Linked DNA regions of Homo sapiens. The protein of the gene in region 2 purifies or fractionates together with the protein of the main gene of each other region. This does not show direct contact. Each region holds a gene or a part of one and is shown on either strand. Other genes may lie near its edges. The genes, in order: EXOC6, MYO5B, RAB3B, SYTL4 and NPC1L1.

Region 1 (4,554 bases), on a different chromosome or scaffold from region 2:
GAGCCAAGATTGTGCCACTGCACTCCAACCTGGGTGACAGAGCAAGACTCTGTCTCAAAAAAAACGAAAGAAAGAAATAGGCAATAGAAACTGCTTATGAGATGGCCCAGATGTTGGATGTAGCAGACTTCAAAGCAGCCATAATAACTATGCTCACAGAACTAAAAAGAAGAAGCAAAGGAAAGTATGATGACAATGTCTTACCAAATAGAGATGGATAAAGAAGTAGAAATTATTTTTTTTAATAATTGGAAATTCCAGAGTTGAAAAGTCAGTAACATAAATGAAAAATTCATTGGAGGGTCCCAACAGTGGATGTGAATTGGCAGAAGGAAGAATCAGTGAATATACAAGACAGTCTGATTATGCAATCAGAGAACAAGAGAGAAAAAACAGTAAGAGAGAAAAAAGAACAGGAGAGAAAAAAGAATAAGGAAAATGAACAGAGTCTCAAATAAATGTGGACATCATTAAGCACACCAGCATACATGAGATGGGAGCACCAAAGTAGAGAAGAGAAAGGAACAGAATGACTATTTAAAGAAATAATTTAAAATTTCCAAAATTTGATGAAAAACATTAACCTACATATCTAAGAAGATCAACAAACTCCAAGTAAGATAAACATAAAGAGATCCATATCCAGGTACATCATAGTAAAATAATGAGAGACAAACGGAAAATCCTGAAAACAACAAGAAACTGCTGATTACATAAGGGAATTCCAATAAGATTAACAGCTGACTTCTCATCAGAAATAATGAAGCCCAGAGGCAGTGGAAAGACATATTCAAACTGCTGGCCGGCGGAGGGGGGGAACCCGTCAACTAAAAATCTTACATATGGTAAAACTATCTTTCAAAAATGAAGATGACATAAAGACATGCCCAGATTTTAAAAAAACAGACAAACAACAACAACAAAAAAAACAGGAAATAGTTTCAAGCAGACCAGCCTTACAAGAAATACAAAAGGAATTTCCTCACGATTAAGAGTGAACTCAGATGACCATTTGATCACACACAGACACACAGACCAGACACACACAGACACACACAAAGAACACCAGTAAAGGTAACTATGTAATTATAAAATACAGTATAAATGCATACTTCTCATTTCTTATCTGATTTGTGGAAGCAGTTGCATAAAACTACATGTACATAATTGTATTGGTGGCATGCAACATATAAAATATATATAGAATATATGTAATACAATGGACAATCACAACACAAAGGATGTATGTGGGAGCAAAGCCATTCTGGAGTAAGAAAATGACACAAGATGACAACTAAAAACCCAGCAACAAATGAAAAGAATCAGAAACAGTAAATAAGAAACTTAATATAACAAACTTTAAAAATACATATTGGTCTCTGTTCTTCTTTCTGCTTCTTTAAAAGACAAAAAATTATAAAAAGTAACAATTATAGTAATGTATTATTGTAATAACACAAAAAAAGGGAAAGAAGGAATATAGCTATATAAGAGTAACATTTCTATACCTTACTGGAAATTAGACTAATTCTGAAGTAGATTCTGAGAGCAACCACTAAGAACTAACTTTTTTCTAAATTCCCAAAAAATCACTAATTAAAATATTACACCAGAAAATATTTGCTTAATGCAAAAGCAGCAGTAAAAAAGGAATAGAGGAGCAAAAAAAAAAAGGAAGAAAGAAATGAGACATAGAACACAAGAAAAACAGCAGATGTGAATCCAACTATGTAAATAATAACATTAAATATGAATAAACAATCAAAAGGCATAGGTTCTCAAATTGGATAAAAATAAGATCCAATGATGTGCTATCTACAAGAGATACACTTTAGATTTAATGACATATTTAAAAGTAAACAGAAAAACATATATCATGAAAAGAGCAACTATAAGAAAGCTGCAGCAGCTATACTAATATCTGACATAACAGACTTTAAAACAAGTCTAGAAATAAAGGATATTTTATGACGGCAAATGGTCAATCAATAAGGAATATATAAAGTATAAACATATATGCATCTAACAACAGAGCCTGAAAAGACATAAAAACTACTCATCATTCAATAATGGATAGAACAACTAAGCAGAAGACCAAAAGGGAATAGGAGACGTGAACAATACTCTAAGCTAATTAGACCTAACAGACCTCTATAGAATACTCCCTCCAACAACAGTAGGATACACAGTCTTCTCAAGGGAACATGGAACATTCTCCAGTACAGACTATGTTAGGCAATAAAATAAGCCTCAATAAACTTAAAATAAACTGAAGTCATACAAATTATTATCTCTGACTGCAATGGGATTAAATTAGAAATTAATAACAGAAGGACATTTTAGAAATTCACAAATATGTTGAAATTAAGCACACTTCTAAATAACCAGTGAAAGAGGAAATAATAAGGAAAACTAAAGATATTTTGAAGAAAGGTAAATGAAAACACACATGCCAAAAAGTTTTAGATGAAGCTAATGCTGTTCTTAGAGAAAAATTTATAGCTGTAAAAACCAATATTAAAAAATAAGAAAGATCTCAAATTAATAACCCAAACTTCCATCGTAAGGTTGGGTTCCATCATAATAAAAAAGAGAGCAACCCAACCCAAAACAAGCAGAAGAAAGAAAGTAATAAAGATTAGATCAGATGTAAATGTAACAGAAAAACAATAGAGAGGCCAGGTGCAGTGGCTCATGCCTGTAATCCCAGAAATTTTGGAGGCAAAGGCAGGCAGATCACCTGAGGTCAGGAGTTCAAGACCAGCCTGGCCAACGTGGCAAACCCTATCTCTACTAAAAATATAAAAATTAGCCAGGCATGGTGGCATGTGCCTGTAATCCCAGCTAGTCGAGAGGCTGAAACAGGAGAATCGCTTGAACCCAGGAGGCGGAGGTTGCAGTGAGCCAAGATCGCGCTACTGCACTCCAGCCTGGGCAACAGAGCAAGACTTCATCTCAAAAAAAAGAAAAAACAAAAACAATAGAGAAAAAAATCAATAAAACAGAGAGTTGGTTCTTTGAAAAGATCAACAAAATTGACAAACCTTTATCTAGAATGACCAAGCAAAAACAAAGACTCAAATTACTAAATTCAAGAACAAAAGAGAGAATGTTACAGAAATAAAAATAAGAAAAAGTTATGAGCAATTATATGTCAACAACTAAAATAATCTAAATGAAACACAACAAATTCCTAGAAAGACACAAACTATCAAAACTAACTCAAGAAAACTAGAAAATCTGAGTATACCTTTAACAAGTAATGAAATGGAATCAGTAATCGAAAACTTCCCAACAAAGAAAATACACATGGCTTAACTGGAAAATTTTACCATATATTTAAAGAATTAACATTAATCATTCACAAGCTCTTCCAAATGTGGAAGAGAAGCGAACACTTCCTAACTCATTCTATAAGGCCAGCATTACCCTGATACCAAAGCCAGATAAAGACATCACCAAAAAAAGAAAATTACAGAGCTGGGCATGGTGGAACATGCCTGTAGTTTCAGATACTCAGGAGGCTGAGGTGGGAGAACTGCATGAGCTCCAGAGTTCAAGACCAGCCTGGGCAATGTAGCAAGATCCTGTCTCAAACATAAATTAAAAAAAAAAATTTTCATGCCAGGCACAGTGGCTCATGCCTATAATTCCAGCTACTCGGGAGGCTAAGGTAGGAGGACTGCTTGAGGCCAGAAGTACAAGATCAGTCTGGGCAACACAGTGAGATTTTGTCTCTAAAAAAATTACAGAAATCCCTCATGAATATAGATGTAGAAATTCTCAATAAAATACTAGCAAACCAAATCCAACAGTATATTAAAGAGGATTATACACTATGGCCAAATGAGATTTATCCTAGGAATGCAAGGGTAATTAAACATGAGGAAATCAATCAATGTAATGTACCACATGAATAGAATAAAGGGGGGAAAAAACCCAAATACTCATCTCAATTGAGAGAGCACCAACTCATTCTATGAGGTATCATTCTCATATCAAAGACATCACACACACACACACAAAAAACAGATCAAAATATCTTATGAATACACATGCAAAAATCCTCAACAAAATACTAGCAAACAGAATCCAACAACATATAAAAAGGATTATACTTTATGCACTATGATCAAATGGGATTTATCCCATGAATACAAAGTTGGTTTACATCTGATAATGTAATATACCATATCAAAAGAATAAGGGACAAAACCACATGATCACCTCAATAGATACAGAAAAAAGCATCTGATAAAATTCAACACCCCTTCATAATGAAAACTAAGAGAACTCCTCAACCTGATAAACAGCATTTATGGAATTCCCACAGCAGTGTATGAGAGTGCCAGTTCTTCTACATCCTTACCAATACATGGTATAGTCAGTCTTTTTTTTTTTTTTGAGATGGAGTCTCATTCTGTCGCCCAGGCTGGAGTGCATTGGCACAATCTCGGCTCATGCATCCTCCGCCTCCCAGGTTCAAGTGATTCCCCTGCCTCAGCCTCCCAAGTAGCTGGGACTACAGGCGTGTGCTACCAAGCCCAGCTAATT
Region 2 (4,554 bases):
CTCGGGTAGGATCCTGGTCCCAGCACTTTCTATTTATGTGACTTTGGCAAGGGACTTGATGTCCCTGGCCCACCATTTCCTCATATACAAAATGATCTCACAAAATTGTATGAAGATCAAATAAGAGTGAACACAAAACACATATCGCAGAGCTTGGCACATGGCAGGTGCTTGGAAAATCCTTAGGATCAATGCTGTTCAGCCTGTTGGCATGCGATTTCCTCCCTTATGATACAGCATGCGACATACGTCACAGCCATCCTCTGTCCAGCAAGGCCAGCAAAGCACCTGAAACAGCCAGGCATCCAATAAAGGTCTTCTGAAGGGAAGGAGGACTGGCCATGTGGGCCACCAAAAAGTGGGGGTCCAGGTTTGTGCATGCATACATGTGAGCCTCGTCTATTCCATTAGACAAAGCTGAGTGTTCTGTGCTTGTCTCGAATCTCTTGTACTACGTTGTACGGTACCCAACCCCCTACAGGGATATTTAATCAATGGCTTGTTACCCCTTTGATTGGCTGACATGGGAAGGTGGCCAGGGTAGAAAGAGGACAAAGCTTAAAAATAAGAGTGCTAACCATTTTTCAAGTTTCTCCTACTGCATACCAGGCCCTGCATATGCATTAGACCATTTATTCTTCTTTCAGCCCTGTCAGCCCCATTTTATGGATAAGAAAAGAGGTTCAGAGTAGTCACATCAGCCACTCAACTTTTAAGCAGAAGAACTGAATTCTGATTTCCAAAGCAAACACTCTTTCCAAAAGAGGCAGACAGACAGATAGGCAGACAGAGAGACAGAAGGGCAAAGTGATGCAGAGCATGGGCTCTGGAGCCAGACAGCTGGGGTTCAAACCTCGGCCCTGCCACTGCCACCTGTGTGACTTTAGGATGCCATGTGCCCTTCCAGTGTCTTCAATTGTACAAAAAGGGGGATGGTAATACTTGCCGTAGGAGGGCCGCTATATTAGACAAGCTACTCCAGTCAAAGCGCCAGCCCCATACCCCACACAGCAAGCCCTCCATGCACACCAGCTGCTGCTGCATTACCCTATGTCACCCCTGCAAGGGCAAAACACCAGCACCTTGGGCTAGTGTGTCAGTTTCCTATTGCTGCTGCAACAAGTTACCACCAAGTTATGACTCAAGATAGCATAAATCATTATCTTACAGCTCTGGAGGTCAGGAGTCTGAAGGGGTTGGCACGGCTGCATTCTTTCTGGACGCTCTAGGGGAGAGTCCATGTCTTCGTCTTCTCTGGCTTCTCAAGGCTGCCTGCATCCCTCCCACCTCTGATTCTGTCATCACTTCTTCTCTGAACTTGATCCTCCAGCCTCCCTCTTAGGAGGACCCCTGTTATATCAAGCTCACCTGGCTCACCCAGGATACTCTTCCCATCCTACAGTTCTTAATTTAATTGCATCTGCAAAGTCCCTTTTGCCATATAAGGTAACACACTCACAGATCCCAGGGCTGAGGGTATCTTTAGGGGTCACTGATCTGCCTGCCACAGTTAGTATCTGCTGTGGTCTGAGGACGTCTGTGCTCCCTCGGGTCTTCGGCATGTGCAGTTCCTCAAGGAAGCTGTGGGCTCTCTCAAAATGCTCCAGTACCCAAGCCCCCGACACCCAGGTAGGGAGCTGCAGACACTGACCTGCTCATCGATCTTCCGCTGCAGCTGGACCACCTTGTTCTCCATGCCCACGTTGAGACGTTTCAGATGCTCTGCTGAGCGGGCCTCAATCCTGAGGGCCTTCAGCTCCCGCCTGGCCTTGAGCATCCGGAAGGCACACTGGATGACAATGGCTGCATCCCGCAGCCGCTGGAAGTGCCTGCGTGCCATCCAGCCCCGCACGTGCTTCTGGATGGTGGTGGCCTTGTGCTCCATGAGGACCTGGCGGGAAACAAGGATACACATCTTGTGGGTTTGCACTGCAGGACAGGAGTGAAGGAAGCATACATCACTGCCTGTGGAGGGAAGAGGCCAGGGCAGCCTTGGTTCTAGGAGTTACACAGACAATGTGCCCCCTAAGATCTAAGGCTTTGGTGGTTGTTTTATAACACATTTCAGCGAGGTTCTGCGCCTACATATCCACAGGGAATCAGCTGTCAAACTCTTTTCAGCTTTGTTTTACTTTTTGTTTTATGGGTTAGGAAACCACAGTCTGAAAACCTCAAGGTTGTAGGGGCCTAATGATCATCCACTTGCTCTCTACCCATTTACCAGGTGGAGGTCCCCTCCTGGTGGCACTGAGCTGGAAGTGAGATACTTCAGTGAGTGTCCACAGCAGGCTAATGGCTTATAATTACAAACTTGGTGTGTAATTCACTGTTTTTTTTTTTCTACCAAGTTAAAAAACCACTCAGGATATGAAAGCATCATCAGTGTGCTCGCCCTAATACCTGGTAAAATAAATGTTTGTGGAATAAATGAGTAAACAAGCAAACAGGCTGAGCAATGAACAGTGCCACAGCCATGAGTGACAGAGCTGGGAGCCACATCAGTGCTCACTCTTTGCACATGCTGCCCCTGCTGAGAAACTCCCAAACATCACCTGCCCCTTCCATGGGAGCAGCACACCAACGCCACCCATCACCCAAGAACACTCACAGAACCTTCTCCCAATGGCCTGGGTTTCTCTACATACTACACCAGGGTGTGCTCCACCCTGACCACATTTTTATTATTATCAATTTCGTGCTTTACTTTTATTATTTAGAAAATCACACCTTCTGTGATCATAGAAGAGACAGATGTTCATTTAATGAAAAAGAAAACCATTTTAGACATTTCCTTCCAATTCGTGTTTCAAGTCAGCTCTGTGCTTCAGATGTGTTGGTGTTACCTGGTTGAACAGATGTGTCCTGATGTGGGGCTCCTGAACCCAAGGGTTTTGGCTTCACTGGAACAACACAAAGAGCAAGAACCTGGCAGGGAAGAGGTCGGGGCCTCCCTCCTGACCTCACCATGTTGGGCTTCAAGCTCCTGATCCGTTAAGTGGAGGAGTTAGACCTGATGATGCCCAATACCACCGCCTGCCCTCAAGTGTGAATGAGCCCTAGGTGGGTCACCTGGCCCTGCTGTTGGCTGGCCTGGGCCCTCAGGCAGGTGACCTGGCTTCTCTGAGCAACTCAGGTATCAGAAGGGGTGTGAAAACTGCCATGATTGGATGCTGGGCCCCTTCAAAACTCATGTTGAAATCTGATCCCCTATGTTGGAGATGGAGTCTAACAGGAGATGTTTGAGTCATAGAGGCAGATCCCTCATGAACAAATAAATGCCCTTCTTCAAGGGTGATTTCTCACTGTTAGTTCTCATTAGAGCTGCTTGTTAAAAGAGCCACTCTTGTGCTTCCTCTCTCACCATGCGACCTCTGCACACACCGGCTTCCACCTCCCACCATGAGTGGAAGCAGCCTGAGGCCCTCTCCAGAAGCAGATGTTCAATTGTGAACTTTCTGGCCACCAGAATTGTGAGCCAAATAAACCTCTTTTCTTCATAAATCACCCAGCCTCAGATATTGTTATAGCAACATTTAATGGACTAAGACAACAGTATGCACACCCTTCCTACCTTGTGGGACTTCAGAAAGGATTTGGTGAGAGCAGAGATGTGAAAGCATTTAGAAAAAAGTTGGGAGTGCTTGACAGAGGTTCACGTTGGCAGTAATTCATCTGTTGCCACTTTAGTTCTGAATCTGCAGCCCTGAGGCCCTCAGAGTGGCTACTCACCTGGCGGTAGGTTCTCCGCACAAACATGGCCCGGGTGAAGGCCTGGATAACAACGGCAGCTCTGCGGACCCTCTGGTAGGCCTGGCGGGCCCTCTGCATGCGGTAATGTTTCTGGAGCACCACAGCCGCTCTGATCCTCCGCAGGTGCTCAGCCAGCCTGGGGAGCAAGAGGAAACAGGCAGTGTCAGGGAGAGAGTATTGACCGCCCTGATGCAGAGAACCCTGAGACATCTGCAAATGCAAACCTCTCCCTCTGTGGCCCTACCTGGACACACCCAGGGGAAACCAACTCTCTTCACCCCTAACAAATGTAGCAATGCCTTAGGCATTTGACGTTGTGGCTAGAAAAGCAGTGTTAGTTCTTTCCTTATGGTCTCGAAAGGCTTCCCACAAGCTTCAAACTCAGTCAGAGTCTGACTTCCTCTATGATCCTTATCTGAGCACTCTTCTACCTCACTGTGCCTGGGCAGTCCTCAACTACTTCACCAGTAGCATTCTACATCATGTGTTCACATTGCTGCCTGTCCTCTGTACCTCCCCAGGCTTGGAGATCCCAGGGGCTGTGTCTCCATCATCCTGGACCCACTGTAGGCACTGGGTAAGTGTTTGCTGAATGACTAAACCTTCTCAGGCCCAGACCAATCTCTGTTTCCTTTATCTCCTCAACCCTTTCTGCTCGGGATGCATGGAATGTGGCCATTTCCTCTCCTCTCTTGCCTTTCTGCCTTCCCATCTCACCTCCCAGATAAAGCCAGTCTAACACTTCCTCCCCTTCTGAAGGGTCTTGTTTGCTGCCAGGCCTATAACAAGTGCTCAATTAGAGAC
Region 3 (4,554 bases), on a different chromosome or scaffold from region 2:
ATTACATTATTGAGCCCCTGCTATATTGCATATACAGTTGACCTTTGAACAGCATGGGTTTGAACTGTGTAGGTTCACTTATACCTGAATTTTTTTTTTCAACCAAACACTGATTAAAAAAAATACCATGGTGGGTCAAGCGCAGTGGCTCAAACCTGGAATCCCAGCTATTTGGGAGGCTGAGGTAGGAGGATCGCTTGAGCCCAGGAACCTGAAGCTACAGTGAGTTATGATCAGGCCACTGTACTCCATCCTGGGAAACAGAGTGACACCCATCTCTTAAAAAAGAAGAAAAAGAGAAGAAAATACAGTAGTGAAGGGAGGTGAAGTCTGTATATTCAGAGGACCAACTTTTAGTCTAGGTGGGTTCCACTGGGCCAACTGTGGTTCTTGAGTAGGCGTGGATTTCGGTATATATGGGGGTCCTGGAGCCAATCCCTTGCCTATACCAAGAAATTACTGTACTATTCTAGATGTATAACCCACATTACCTATAATTTTCCCAACAACACTTGTTTTATGAATGAGGAAACTGTCTTAATCATGTAACATTTCTTGCCAAGGTCTCATAGGTAATAAATGATAGACCTGGAAACTGAATCTAGTTTGTTTGATTTGGAGCTCCAAACTATTTCCACTACACAGGATGACTTGCTAGAAGAAACCATGAAGCACAGAGACAAACAAACAAACAAAATAAGGGGTTAATAAAACACCCTCCCATATACAGGTTTTAATTCTTGCAACAGTTTTGCCAGGAAGCCATTTTATGAGCTCCTTTTATAGATAAGGAAACTGAGGCCAGGGGTGTGATTTGCCTAAGTTTACAGGATCACTGAAAGAGCCAGGGCTTATCTTTCAAATGCCAGGTCTCTTGGACTCAGTCTCATGTTCTTTGCAACAAAAGGTAAGTTCCTTCATTCACTTCTTCACTCCATTTATTGAGCTGATCTCTTCTCGCTGGATTTTAGGGCTCTCTCCTCCTCCTCCCCGCTCTTTCCTGGCTGAAGTTGGCTTCTTCCTTAGGTGCTTATTTCTGCCGCCTATCAGACTGAAAGGGTTGTTTTTCACAGCCACCCTTTGAGGAGTCATTTCTTTCCCCCAGCCTGGGACAGGGACGACTTCCCAGATGGTCCCTGGGCCTTCATCTGTATTGCTTGTCACGGAGATAGCTCTATCATTTTATGTGACTGTCACAAAATAGAGGAAAGATTTGATTGATGCTTATCTTACAAATGCAATTCTGCATGCACCACTGTGCATGACCTGTCTGCTTAGATCTGCCTCAGGCAGCTGCCTGCTGGGATGCTTTTTGCCTGTCTTCCAAATGTCTGAGTAGCCCCTGGCCGCCCCCTCCTAAGAAGATCCCCTTGGGGGCTTCCATCTGAATGAGCCTTCCAACTGAACTCAGCTCTCTGCCTCTCCCCGTTCTCACACCACCTACTGGGAAAGCCATGCTGTGTGTGCATAAGCAGATGTTAACAGTGTGGTATGGCAAGTACAGTACGGTAGCAGGACACTCAGGATGTTGGGTATGCTTCTTTTTTTTAATTTTTATTTTTAGAGATAGGGTCTCACTCTGTCACCCAGGTTGGGATACAGTGGTGCAATCATAGCTCACTCTAACCTCGAACCTCTGGACTCAAGTGATTTTCCAGCCTCAGCCTCCCAAGTACCGAGGACTACAGGTGCACACCACCACATCCGACTAATTTAAACTTTTTTTGGCTGGGCGCGGTGGCTCACGCCTGTAATCCCAGCACTTTGGGAGGCCGAGGCAGGCGGATCACAAGGTCAGGAGACCGAGACCATCCTGGCTAACACGGTGAAACCCCATCTCTAGTAAAAATACAAAAAATTAGCCGGGTATGGTGGCGGGTGTCTGTAGTCCCAGCTACTCGGGAGGCTGAGGCAGGAGAATGGCGTGAACCCGGGAGGCGGAGCTTGCAGTGAGCTGAGATCGCGCCACTGCCCTCCAGCCTGGGCGACAGAGTGAGACTCTGCCTCAAAAAAAAAAAAAAAAAAAAAATTCGTAGAAATGGAATCTCACTATGTTTCCCAGGCTGGTTTTGAACTCCTGGCCTCAAGTGATTTTCCCATTTTGGCATCCCAAAGTGTTGGGATTACAGGCATGAGCCACCATGCCCAGCCAGGATGCTTCTTTATTCACCCTAAAATTGTTGTGGTTTTCGTTTTCCTTAATCCCGTCAAACCTGGAAGCCATTAGGTAACAGAAGTTCCATTCATGACCCTCCAACTGACTTGCTGTGTGAGCTTGGACAAATCACTTGTCTTTGCAGAGCCTCAATTTTTTTTTTTTTTTTTTACCTGTAAGATAAACGGAGGTAGATCAGGAACTGAAACAATTTTTTACTCTTGCCATCACTTCCTAGTCTCCTATCTGTGGCAGTCACAGCTAATAAAGGCAGGCAAATTTCTCACTGATTCTACACGAGGCTACATGTATTTTTCTCAGCACAGTGTATGAAACATACTTATATACGTTCTCTTATTTAAAATTCACAGCACCTCGTGAAGTAAGTATTATTGTCAGATGAGGACACTGAGGCATAGAATTTAAGTAACTAGGCCAAGTTTACACACTGAGTTACTGGGAAAGCTGGGCCCAGTAGCCAGGCTTTTTGTTACAATAAAAAGCTGCTACTCCAAAGTCCCCTCTAATTCTAGCAGTTTAAGAGTGTGAAGCTGGGCTACATCAGAAAAGTGAAAACCAGTAATCTGACATTTACACTGATAGTCTGGCACTTGAAAAATGCTCTATATGTGTTTCTTGAAAGACATAACACCCTCTAAGGATTTACTGTAGGTCTAGCGTTGACCAGATGTAAGGATGGATAAAGCCCCCTTGAATCCAGAAGAGAGAGCAAACAGTTAATTGTAAAACAGGCCCAAATAATGGAGCCACAATCAGGGAGAGGGCAGTTGAACAAGATTTGCCTGCAGAAGTGAATTAAAGGGGCCAGTGAAATAATATGTATTCAGTACCTCCATGGGCCGAGAAACTGTGTCAGATTGTTTACGTATAGTACTACTCTTTCTATTTGTACCAAGCTCTGTGAAGTAGGTGGTATTTTCTCTATTTTAAGGTAAAAGTGCTGTGGCTTAGAGAGGCAATATGACTTACCTAAGAATTCATCTGAGGGTAGAGCATTGATTTTAAACTTTTTCATAACACTGCAGGGTACTAAGTCTAGTCTCGGCTGTTAGCTATGAGATTTGGGCAAATCCTTTTAATTTCTCATTTTCAGTTTCCTTCTTGATCAAATGGAAATAATAATCCACGTCTTTCCAGCTTTATTTCCCAGGTTTATTTAGAGATAAAAGAAGATAAAGGATATGAAATTGTGGTAAAGATCACATTTATGTTTTAGTAGTGACTCTTTGACCAGCAATTCCACTTCAAGGAATCTCTCTCAAGGAAGTAATTAGGAAAATGTACAAAAATTTATGTAAAGAAATGTTCACTGCAGTTTCATGTATAATAATTAAGAGTAGAAAAACAACTTAAAAACAACTTCCTAAAGAGAGTGACAACATTAAATAATTGATCTGGCTGGGCCAACATGGTGAAACCCCATCTCTATTAAAAATACAAAAATTAGCCGGTGTGATGGTGAGCACCTGTAGTCCCAGCTACTTGGGAGGCTGAGGCAGGAGAATCGCTTGAACCCAGGAGTTGGAGGTTGCAGTGAGCCAAGATTGTGCCATTGCACTCCAGCCAGGGTGACAGAGCAAGACTCTGTCTCAAAAAAAAAAAAAAAAAAAAAGAATTGGTCTTATGACACATCTATAGGATGGAATATAATGTAGTCAACTGAAATGATGTTTTTTTAGAGTTTTCAAAGTCTCGTTCATGCTTTTTTTTTTTTTTTTTTTTTTTTTTTTTTTTTTAATTAGAGAGTCTCCACTGTTGCCTGGGCTGGAGTGCAGTGGCACAATCTCCGCTCACTGTAACCTCCGCCTGCCAGGTTCAAGTGATTCTCCTGCCTCAGCCTCCAGAGTAGCTGGGATTACAGGCAGCCACCACCACGCCCAGCGAATTTTTTGTATTTTTAGTAGAGATGGGGTTTCACCATGTTGGCCAGACTGGTCTCGAACTCCTGACCTCGTGATTCACCCGCCTCAGCCTCCCAAAGTGCTGGGATTACAGGCATGAGCCACCGCGCCCAGCCCTTACTTTCTTTTCTTTTTTTTTGAGACAGTGTCTTGCTCTGTCACCCAGACTGGAGTGTAGTTGTGCAATCTTGACTCACTGCAGCCTCCGCCTCCTGGGTTCAAGCAATTTTTGTGCTTCAGCCTCCTGACTAGCTGGAATTACAGGTGTGCGCCACCACACCTGGCTAATTTTTATATTTTTAGTAGAGACTGGATTTCACCATGTTGGCCAGGCTGATCTTAAACTCCTGAGCTCAAATGATCCGCCTGCCTCGGCCTCACAAAGTCCTGGGATTATGGGCCTGAGCCACGGCACCTGGCCTCAAAATCTCATATTTTTGTAGTACTTTTGGTACTACTAAATTTTTGTAGTATTTA
Region 4 (4,554 bases), on a different chromosome or scaffold from region 2:
TAATCTCCCCCACTAGATTGTAAGCTGTATGACAGAAGGGACTTTGTTTTGTTCATTTCTGTACCTTTGGTGCCTAGAGCACTGCCTGGATCATAATATGCACAAAATAAATATTTGTTGAATGAATGAGCTGGCATCAAGAATACCATATATCATATTCAGCCACACCCAAGAGCTTATCATCTAGGACTTCTCCACCTTTGATATCACTGATTCAACACCCCCTCTCTGACCACAACCTGCTGTGCTTCTAGCCTATTCAGCCAATGAGCCCCCCAACTAGCCCCATTCCTGTTCTCAGATTTCTTGGATGGGGGCAGTCTTCCATAGACCCTTCTGCTTTCACCTCCTCAGCTCCTTCCCATCTTTACTTCCTTCCCAATAACATTTAAATTTTATTGTTTCTTTCTCTTTTTTTTTTCTGAGACTTTTTCTCTATTGCTCTGGCTGGAGTGCAGTGGCATGATCTTGGCTCACTGCAACCACTGCCTCCTGGATTCAAGCGATTCTCCTGCCTCAGCCTCCCAAGTAGCTGGGATTACAGGTGTGCGCCACCATGCCCGGCTAATTTTTGTATTTTTAGTAGAGATGGGGTTTCACCATGTTGGCCAGACTGGTCTCGAGCTCCTAACCTCAGGTGATCCACCCGCCTCAGCCTCCCAAAGTGCTGGGATTACTGGTGTGAGCCACCGCACCCAGCCAATTCTATTGTTTCAACTGCACTCTTGTCAATATCCTCAATAATGCATAATTTCACTGCAAATATCTGATTTAAAAAACCATAGCTCTTCTAAGCCCAACTGTTATACTTTATGCATGCACAAGGACTCCTGAGATCTACTGGAGAAAAAAAAATCACACTCTGGTAGATTATTATCCATATGAATTCTTGGTCACCAAGCTCATCTTAACCCTGCCTGGCACTGCAACTATGCTTCCCTAGGCTGCTCTCCTGTTCTCCACAATAACTATTTCAAACCTTCTTCAAATACCACAAATATCTAACTCAAACCTTGTCCCATCTTAACCCCTGCTCTAAGAGGTTGGCCTTAACTATTATATCATAGAGAAATAGAAATACCATCAGACAAGTTCCTGCCGCCAAATCTATGAACCTACTTTCATCTATGCCTATTGAGGATAATCCTCTACCTCAATCTGGATCCCCTCCCATCTGGCATAAGGACTTTGCCTTCCAAGGATTTTGCTCTATTAATTAGTCCCTCCTTCCCACCAGCCTTTAAAGGAACTCAAGTCCTTCCTAAATAAATAAATAAATAAATAAATAACAGGTCCTCAATCTCAACTCCTTCCTTGCTACTACCCTTTCTCTGCTCTTCAAAGCCAGACAGATTTCTCTAAGGAATTGTACATAATCACTGCCTTCACTTCCTCATCTCTCCAATCATTTCTCAACCCACCATAGTTTAGCTTTCTGCCTCACAGTTCTCTGAAATTGCTCTAAGGTCACCAAGAACTTCCTAAATCCAATAGACAGTTCTTGGTCTTCCTAGATTTCTCTGGATCTTTAGTACCACTGACCATATTTTTAACATAGCCATTTCATTTTGAGAAACTTATTCTGCTGATATTCAAGTAAATTCACAAATATATATTCTGAGGATGCTCAATATTTGAAACAGCAAAAAAAAAAAAATTAAAGAACATAAACATCCATCAAAGGAAACTGACTAGTTATTGTACACACATATTAGGGAATATTGTGCCTTTGTTAAAAAGAAGAAGGTACGGTCTCCCTCTGATGCAGAGGTGAAGCTGGACTGTACTGCTGCCATCTCGGCTCACTGCAACCTCCCTGCCTGATTCTCCTGCCTCAGCCTGCCGAGTGCCTGCGATCGCAGGCGCGCGCCGCCACGCCTGACTGGTTTTCGTATTTTTTTGGTGGAGATGGGATTTCGCTGTGTTGGCCGGGCTGGTCTCCAGCTCCTAACCACGAGTGATCCGCCAGCCTTGGCTTCCCGAGGTGCTGGGATTGCAGACGGAGTGTCGTTCACTCAGTGCTCAATAGTGCCCAGGCTGGAGTGCAGTAGCGTGATCTCGGCTCACTACAACCTCCACCTCCCAGCCGCCTCCCTTGGCCTCCCAAAGTGCCGAGATTGCAGCCTCTGCCCGGCCGCCACCCCATCTGGGAAGTGAGGAGTGTCTCTGCCTGGCCGCCATCCCATCTAGGAAGTGAGGAGCGCCTCATCCCGGCCGCCATCCCATCTAGGCAGTGAGGAGCGTCTCTGCCCGGCCGCCCATCGTCTGAGATGTGGGGAGCGCCTCTGCCCTGCCGCCCCGTCTGGGATGTGAGGAGCGTCTCTGCCCGGCCGCCCCGTCTGAGAAGTGAGGAGCCCCTCCGCCCGGCAGCCGCACCGTCTGAGAAGTGAGGAGTCCCTCCGCCCGGCAGCCACCCCGTCTGGGAAGTGAGGAGCGTCTCCGCCTGGCAGCCACCCCGTCCGGGAGGGAGGTGGGGGTCAGCCCCCGCCAGGCCAGCCACCCTGTCCGGGAGGGAGGTGGGGGGTCAGCCCCCGCCAGGCCAGCCGCCCCGTCAGGGAGGGAGGTGGGGGGGTCAGCCCCCCGCCCGGCCAGCCGCCCCGTCCGGGAGGGAGGTGGGGGGGGTCAGCCCCCCGCCCAGCCAGCCGCCCCGTCCGGGAGGTGAGGGGCGCCTCTGCCCGGCCGCCCCTGCTGGGAAGTGAGGAGCCCCTCTGCCCGGCCAGCCGCCCCGTCCGGGAGGGAGGTGGGGGGGGTCAGCCCCCCACACGGCCAGCCGCCCCGTCCGGGAGGGAGGTGGGGGGGTCATCAGCTCCCCCGCCCGGCCAGCCGCCCCGTCCAGGAGGGAGGTGGGGGGGGTCAGCGCCCCGCCCGGCCAGCCGCCCCATCCGGGAGGTGAGGGGCGCCTCTGCCCGGCCGCCCCTACTGGGAAGTGAGGAGCCCCTCTGCCCGGCCACCACCCCGTCTGGGAGGTGTACCCAACAGCTCATTGAGAACGGGCCATGATGACAATGGCGGTTTTGTGGAATAGAAAGGGGGGAAAGGTGGGGAAAAGATTGAGAAATCGGATGGTTGCCATGTCTGTGTAGAAAGAGGTAGACATGGGAGACTTTTCATTTTGTGCTGTACTAAGAAAAATTCTTCTTCCTTGGGATCCTGTTGATCTGTGACCTTGCCCCCAACCCTGTGCTCTCTGAAACATGTGCTGTGTCCACTCAGGGTTGAATGGATTAAGGGTGGTGCAAGAGGTGCTTTGTTAAACAGATGCTTGAAGGCAGCATGCTCGTTAAGAGTCATCACCACTCCCTAATCTCAAGTACCCAGGGACACAAACACTGCGGAAGGCCGCAGGGTCCTCTGGCCTAGGAAAACCAGAGGCCTCTGTTCACTTGTTTATCTGCTGACCTTCCCTCCACTATTGTCCTGTGACCCTGCCAAATCCCCCTCTGCGAGAAACACCCAAGAATGATCAATAAAAAGAAAAAAGAAAAAAAAAAAAAGAAGAAGGTACTGTAGTTCTATATATACTGACACTGAAAGCATATTAAATTAAAAAAATTGCAAATCATATATATTATGATTCCATTTTTATTTGTTTACATTTTAGACAGATTGGATCATGGATGAATGGAAAAATGTCTAGAAAGAAATACAATCTTAACATTGTTACCTCTGGAGAGTGGGATAAGCAGGAACAGAAGATTTATATGTTACCTTTTATTGAGTCAAGTAATAAAAATGTAGTCCCATCCCTAAGCACAGCAACACTTCTAGGTAAGAAAAAAATTTCACAGGAGATCAAAAGGGAATGGCCGTAGAGACTAGGGGAAAATATTTTAAGGTCACCAGGGCTAAGAGAGAAAGGAGAGAAGTGTAGCTAATGGTTTCAAACATGGAATGAGAGATCTATTAAAAACAAGAAGAGGTAAGTATCCAATAGACAGAGAGCGTGAATAGATAATTCTTAAAGGGGAAAAATCACATGGCCAATACACATCAAAAAGAAAAAGTTTCACTCTTACTGGCAATAAAGATTTTTTTATGTTTGCTTATTAATTCAGCAAAATTTCAGAAAGACAATTTTCAGTTTTTAAAAAGGATTTAAGAGATATTCTCATATTTTGTTGGCAAATGTAAATTAGTAAGGCCTGTTAAAAAGCAATGTGACAATCTGATTTCTAAGAAAACTGAACTTCACAGAACTTATCACAATTGTAATTAAAAAATTATGTGATACAATATTTAATATACACTTCCCCTGCCGAAATAAGTTCCAGGAGAAAAATGGCCATTGTCTACCTTCTTCTCAGCCATACCTCAAGCATCTAGCTGGGTTGATGGATGGATAGATGGATAAATCTACATTGTAGGATCCTGACTGTAGGCTCTCAGTTGGTGCAACGTAAATCCTCAGTAAATCAACACAGAGCATGGCACAACATAGGCCCTCAGTAAATCAAATCACGCTTTCTGATGAGTTTAAAGACACTGATACTAATGGTATTCTGATGCCTGAATCGATAGAGCTACAAACAAGAAGCAGTGTAGATGCCATGGAAA
Region 5 (3,702 bases), on a different chromosome or scaffold from region 2:
CCAAGAGGGTCAGGGAGTCCCCACAAGAGACATGGTTAGGAACCACAGAGCTGTGTGGGCTCCAACCCCTACTACCTTTGACCAAGTCTGTAACCTGGGGCAGGTGTCTCAGTTCCCTCATCTGTAAAATGGGAAGGATAATAATACCTGCCTCGGGGGTAGTAAGAGAATTACAGACACATATGTTGATGCACAAACACACCCCTCTATAAATGTCCTCTAATAATATTATTACCATCTGGTGGGAGGTAAAATTGAACTCCTCCCAGCTTGCCCACCCTGAGAGCCAGAAACACCTTCATCCTGGGAGGCTCAATTTGAGCTTCCATGTGCCTCAGCCTCCCAAAGTGCTAGGATTACAAACATGAGCCACCACTCCTGGCCAGCATTTCAAAATATTAATGAGACCGGGTGCGGTGGCCCACGCCTGTAATCCCTGCACTTTGGGAGGCCAAGGCAGATGGATCACCTGAGGCCACAGGAGTTCGAGACCAGCCTGACCAACATGGTGAAACCTGTCTCCAATAAAAATACAAAAATTAGCCAGGTATGGTGGCATACACCGATATCCCAGCTACTCGAGAGGCTGAGACAGGAGAATCGCTTGAACCCAGGAGGCAGAGGTTGCAGTGAGCTGAGATTGCGCCACTGCACTCCAGCCTGGGCAACAGAGAGAGACTCTGTCTAAAAATAATAAAAATAAAAATAATTAAAATAATTAAAAACAAATTAATGATAGGGCTGGGCACAGTGGCTCACGCCTGTAATCCCAGCACTTTGGGAGGCCTTGGCGGTTGGATCACCTGAGGTCAGGAGTTCGAGACCAGCCTGCCCAACATGGTGAAACCCCGTCTCTACTAAAAATAAAAAATAAATAAATAAATTGGCCAGGCGTGGTGGTGCGCACCTGTAATCCCAGCTACTTGGGAGGCTAAAGCAGGAGAATGGCTTGAACTTGGGAGGCAGAGGTTGCAGGGAGCTGAGATCATACCACTGCACTCCAGCCTGGGCAACAGAGCGAGACTCCATCTCAAAAAATAAAAATAAAATAATGTAAAGTAAAATAAAATAAATAACAAATTTAAAGTAAAATAAAAGCCAAGCGCAGTGGCTCACACCTGTAATCCTAGCACTGTGGAAGGCCATGGTGGATCACTTGAGCTCAGGAGTTTGAGACCAGCCTGGGCAACATAGGGAGACCCCATCTCTACAAAAAATAAAAAATTAGCTGGGCATGGTGGTGTGCACCTGTGGTCCCAGCTACTCGGGAGGCTGAGGTGGGAGGATCACTTGAGCCTGGGAAGTCAAGGTGGCAGTGAGCTGTGATCATGCTACTGCACTCCAGCCTGGGTGTCAGAGCAAGACCCTGTCTCCAAAAAATATTAATAATAATAATAGAATGGAACCAGCAATATCAGAATGCTTCACATGTATAAAGGAAGTATTAATATTATTTAGTGAAGCATTTGTTTTAGGCAGGCATGTCTATGTGTGCCCGTGCATGTCACCTCTCTGTGTAAAATATATTTCTTGCTGAAGGGCATGCTTAAAAGTCCAACAGCAGTGCAGTGAAGATCCACAGTGTACAGGGCCACAGAAACGTTGTTTGAGACATACATAGCTGACAAAAAAAGATGTTCACAGCACATTAAATGAATAATAGTAGCTTCCAAGACAGAATTGCCACATGGTCATAGTCCTGGCTTCTGACATCTGCCCATGGCTCGTTTGCACTTCCTGAGCTTTTGTGGTGAGCATGCACTGTTACTGTTGTCGTCAGCATAATCATGACAGTCTGGTAGGAACAGGCCTGGGCACTCACCCACGTAGCTGAGGATGACGGGCAGGAAGACCAAGCCATGCAGCAGGCCCAGCAGAGTGATCAGGAGGTTGAGGCGGAAGAAGAAGATCTGAATGAGCTGGGCCTTGGCGAGGCCCAGGACAAGGATGCCAGGCAGGTTGGTCATGGCCACACCTGCAAACACCTGGGGGGTTCAGAGCCAGGTGTCAGGCAGGGCACAGGGCATCAGGCAGGGCACAGGGCATCAGGCAGGGCACAGGGTGTCGAGTGGGGCACAGGGTGGCCCACTCCTCTCCACTCACCGCACTTCCCATAGAGATGGTGGCCTCTTTGGCCCTCTCCAGCCAGGTGGGCTTGGTGCTGATGGCAAAGGAGCGGGTAATGTGGGACACAAACTCCACAGACATGCCCACCGCCTATGGGCAGAGAGGGGGCATAAGCCAAGAAAGGCAGAGGTGGGGAAGGAACTAGGGAGATGAGGCCTCCACCAGGACCAGCGTGGGGCAGGCATCTAGATTCTAGACAGAACTGGGAGTATTTGGCCGGGTGCAGTGGCTCATGCCTATAATCCCAACACTTTGGGAGGCCGAGGTGAGAGGATCACTTGAGCCCAGGAGTTTGAGACCAGCCTGGGCAACAAAGTGAGACCCTGTCTCTACAACAAAAATTAAAATATTAGCTGGACGCAGTGGCACGTGCCTGTAGTCCTGGCTACTTTGGAGGCTGAGGTAGGAGGATCGCTTGAGCCCAAGGGTTCGAGGCTACAGTGAGCTGTGATCATGTCACTGCCCTCAAGCCTGAGCAACAGAGCAAGACCCTGCCTCTAAAAAAAGAAACAAAAAAGAACTAGGAGTATTCTATGAGGCTGGATCCCCAACCACCCCTCCAGAGGCCCCCTGGTGCCTGTGTCTGCTGGGTTACCGAGACCAGGTTGATGAGGGACACAGCATTGTAACTGATGCCCCACAGGGCCATGAAGCCGACAGTGTCCACGAGGATCATGACAATGGAGAGCAGGTTGAGGAGGCCGGAGCGCAGGTCCAGGCCCAGCAGGAGGCAGGAGACAGCGAAGGTGGGCACAAGGCAGAGGCTGAGCATGAAGAGCCCCTCAGGGAGGATGGTCAGGTACTGCTCATAAAACACATTGGTGATCCTGCCAGAGCACAGAGCATGGTCACAGGCTCAGGCCTCTGGGGCCCTCATGGTGGGTGGGACACCCCACTTCAGAAGGAGAATGCTGAGGGTCAGGCAGGCTTATATTGGGGTACAAACCAGCCTAAGAAATAGGCCCAAGGCTGCAGCCAGAGCCTCCTGACCTAAAACTGGTCCTCATCTCATGCAACTCCTTGCAAGCCCTCCACCCTAACCTCCAGTCTCCAGCAACCATACCCCACCTCCCTCCAGCCCAGCCACTCAGGTCCTCACGTGTAGGGGAAGACCTCAAAAGCCGGGTCTGTTCCAGGCACTTTCCGCAGGTCAGCAGTGATGTTGGCTGCCAGCTCTCGAGCTGCCCGCAGAGCTTCTGTGTAATCCTGTGAGTTTTTCAGGGGCTTGTGATAGGCCATGAACCTGGAGGCTGGACAGCCATGGCACACAGAAGATGGAAGGGCAAAGGTCAGAGCCCTTTCCAGGACAACTTCAGAACACCGCAGACGCAGTGGCACAGGCATGTGATCAAGCGGGGTTCAGGGCTCTGCCACCACCATTTGAAATTCTTAGTAAATTTTGTGCAAGAGGCCCATATTTTTGTTTTGCACCAGCCCTGCAAACTCCATAGCTGGCCCCACTGCTGTGGGAGACCCAGGCCTGACCTTTGATGAGTGAAGCCTACAGAGATCTCCCTAGTGAACCGAGATTCTTCTCTGTATGGTTTCAAGATATGCATTGGATTTTTAAAATTA

Evidence for each region.
Region 1: the proteins of MYO5B (region 2) and EXOC6 purify together in Homo sapiens (affinity purification with western blotting, with the first as the bait; one study listed by BioGRID). This does not show direct contact.
Region 3: the proteins of MYO5B (region 2) and RAB3B purify together in Homo sapiens (affinity purification with western blotting, with the first as the bait; one study listed by BioGRID). This does not show direct contact.
Region 4: the proteins of MYO5B (region 2) and SYTL4 purify together in Homo sapiens (affinity purification with western blotting, with the first as the bait; one study listed by BioGRID). This does not show direct contact.
Region 5: the proteins of MYO5B (region 2) and NPC1L1 purify together in Homo sapiens (co-immunoprecipitation; one study listed by IntAct). This does not show direct contact.

Annotation. Positions count from the first base shown.
Region 1 is NC_000010.11:92,854,286-92,858,839, reverse strand, and holds part of EXOC6 (exocyst complex component 6), read right to left. Parts: intron 1-4,554. UniProt on the Homo sapiens protein: Component of the exocyst complex involved in the docking of exocytic vesicles with fusion sites on the plasma membrane.
Region 2 is NC_000018.10:49,900,943-49,905,496, forward strand, and holds part of MYO5B (unconventional myosin-Vb), read right to left. Parts: intron 3,887-4,554; coding exon 3,730-3,886; intron 1,892-3,729; coding exon 1,652-1,891; intron 1-1,651. UniProt on the Homo sapiens protein: May be involved in vesicular trafficking via its association with the CART complex. The CART complex is necessary for efficient transferrin receptor recycling but not for EGFR degradation.
Region 3 is NC_000001.11:51,983,622-51,988,175, reverse strand, and holds part of RAB3B (ras-related protein Rab-3B), read left to right. Parts: intron 1-4,554. UniProt on the Homo sapiens protein: The small GTPases Rab are key regulators of intracellular membrane trafficking, from the formation of transport vesicles to their fusion with membranes.
Region 4 is NC_000023.11:100,721,401-100,725,954, forward strand, and holds part of SYTL4 (synaptotagmin-like protein 4), read right to left. Parts: intron 1-4,554. UniProt on the Homo sapiens protein: Modulates exocytosis of dense-core granules and secretion of hormones in the pancreas and the pituitary. Interacts with vesicles containing negatively charged phospholipids in a Ca(2+)-independent manner.
Region 5 is NC_000007.14:44,513,981-44,517,682, forward strand, and holds part of NPC1L1 (NPC1-like intracellular cholesterol transporter 1 isoform 2 precursor), read right to left. Parts: intron 3,378-3,702; coding exon 3,227-3,377; intron 2,955-3,226; coding exon 2,723-2,954; intron 2,218-2,722; coding exon 2,104-2,217; intron 1,986-2,103; coding exon 1,823-1,985; intron 1-1,822. UniProt on the Homo sapiens protein: Plays a major role in cholesterol homeostasis. Critical for the uptake of cholesterol across the plasma membrane of the intestinal enterocyte. Involved in plant sterol absorption, it transports sitosterol, although at lower rates than cholesterol.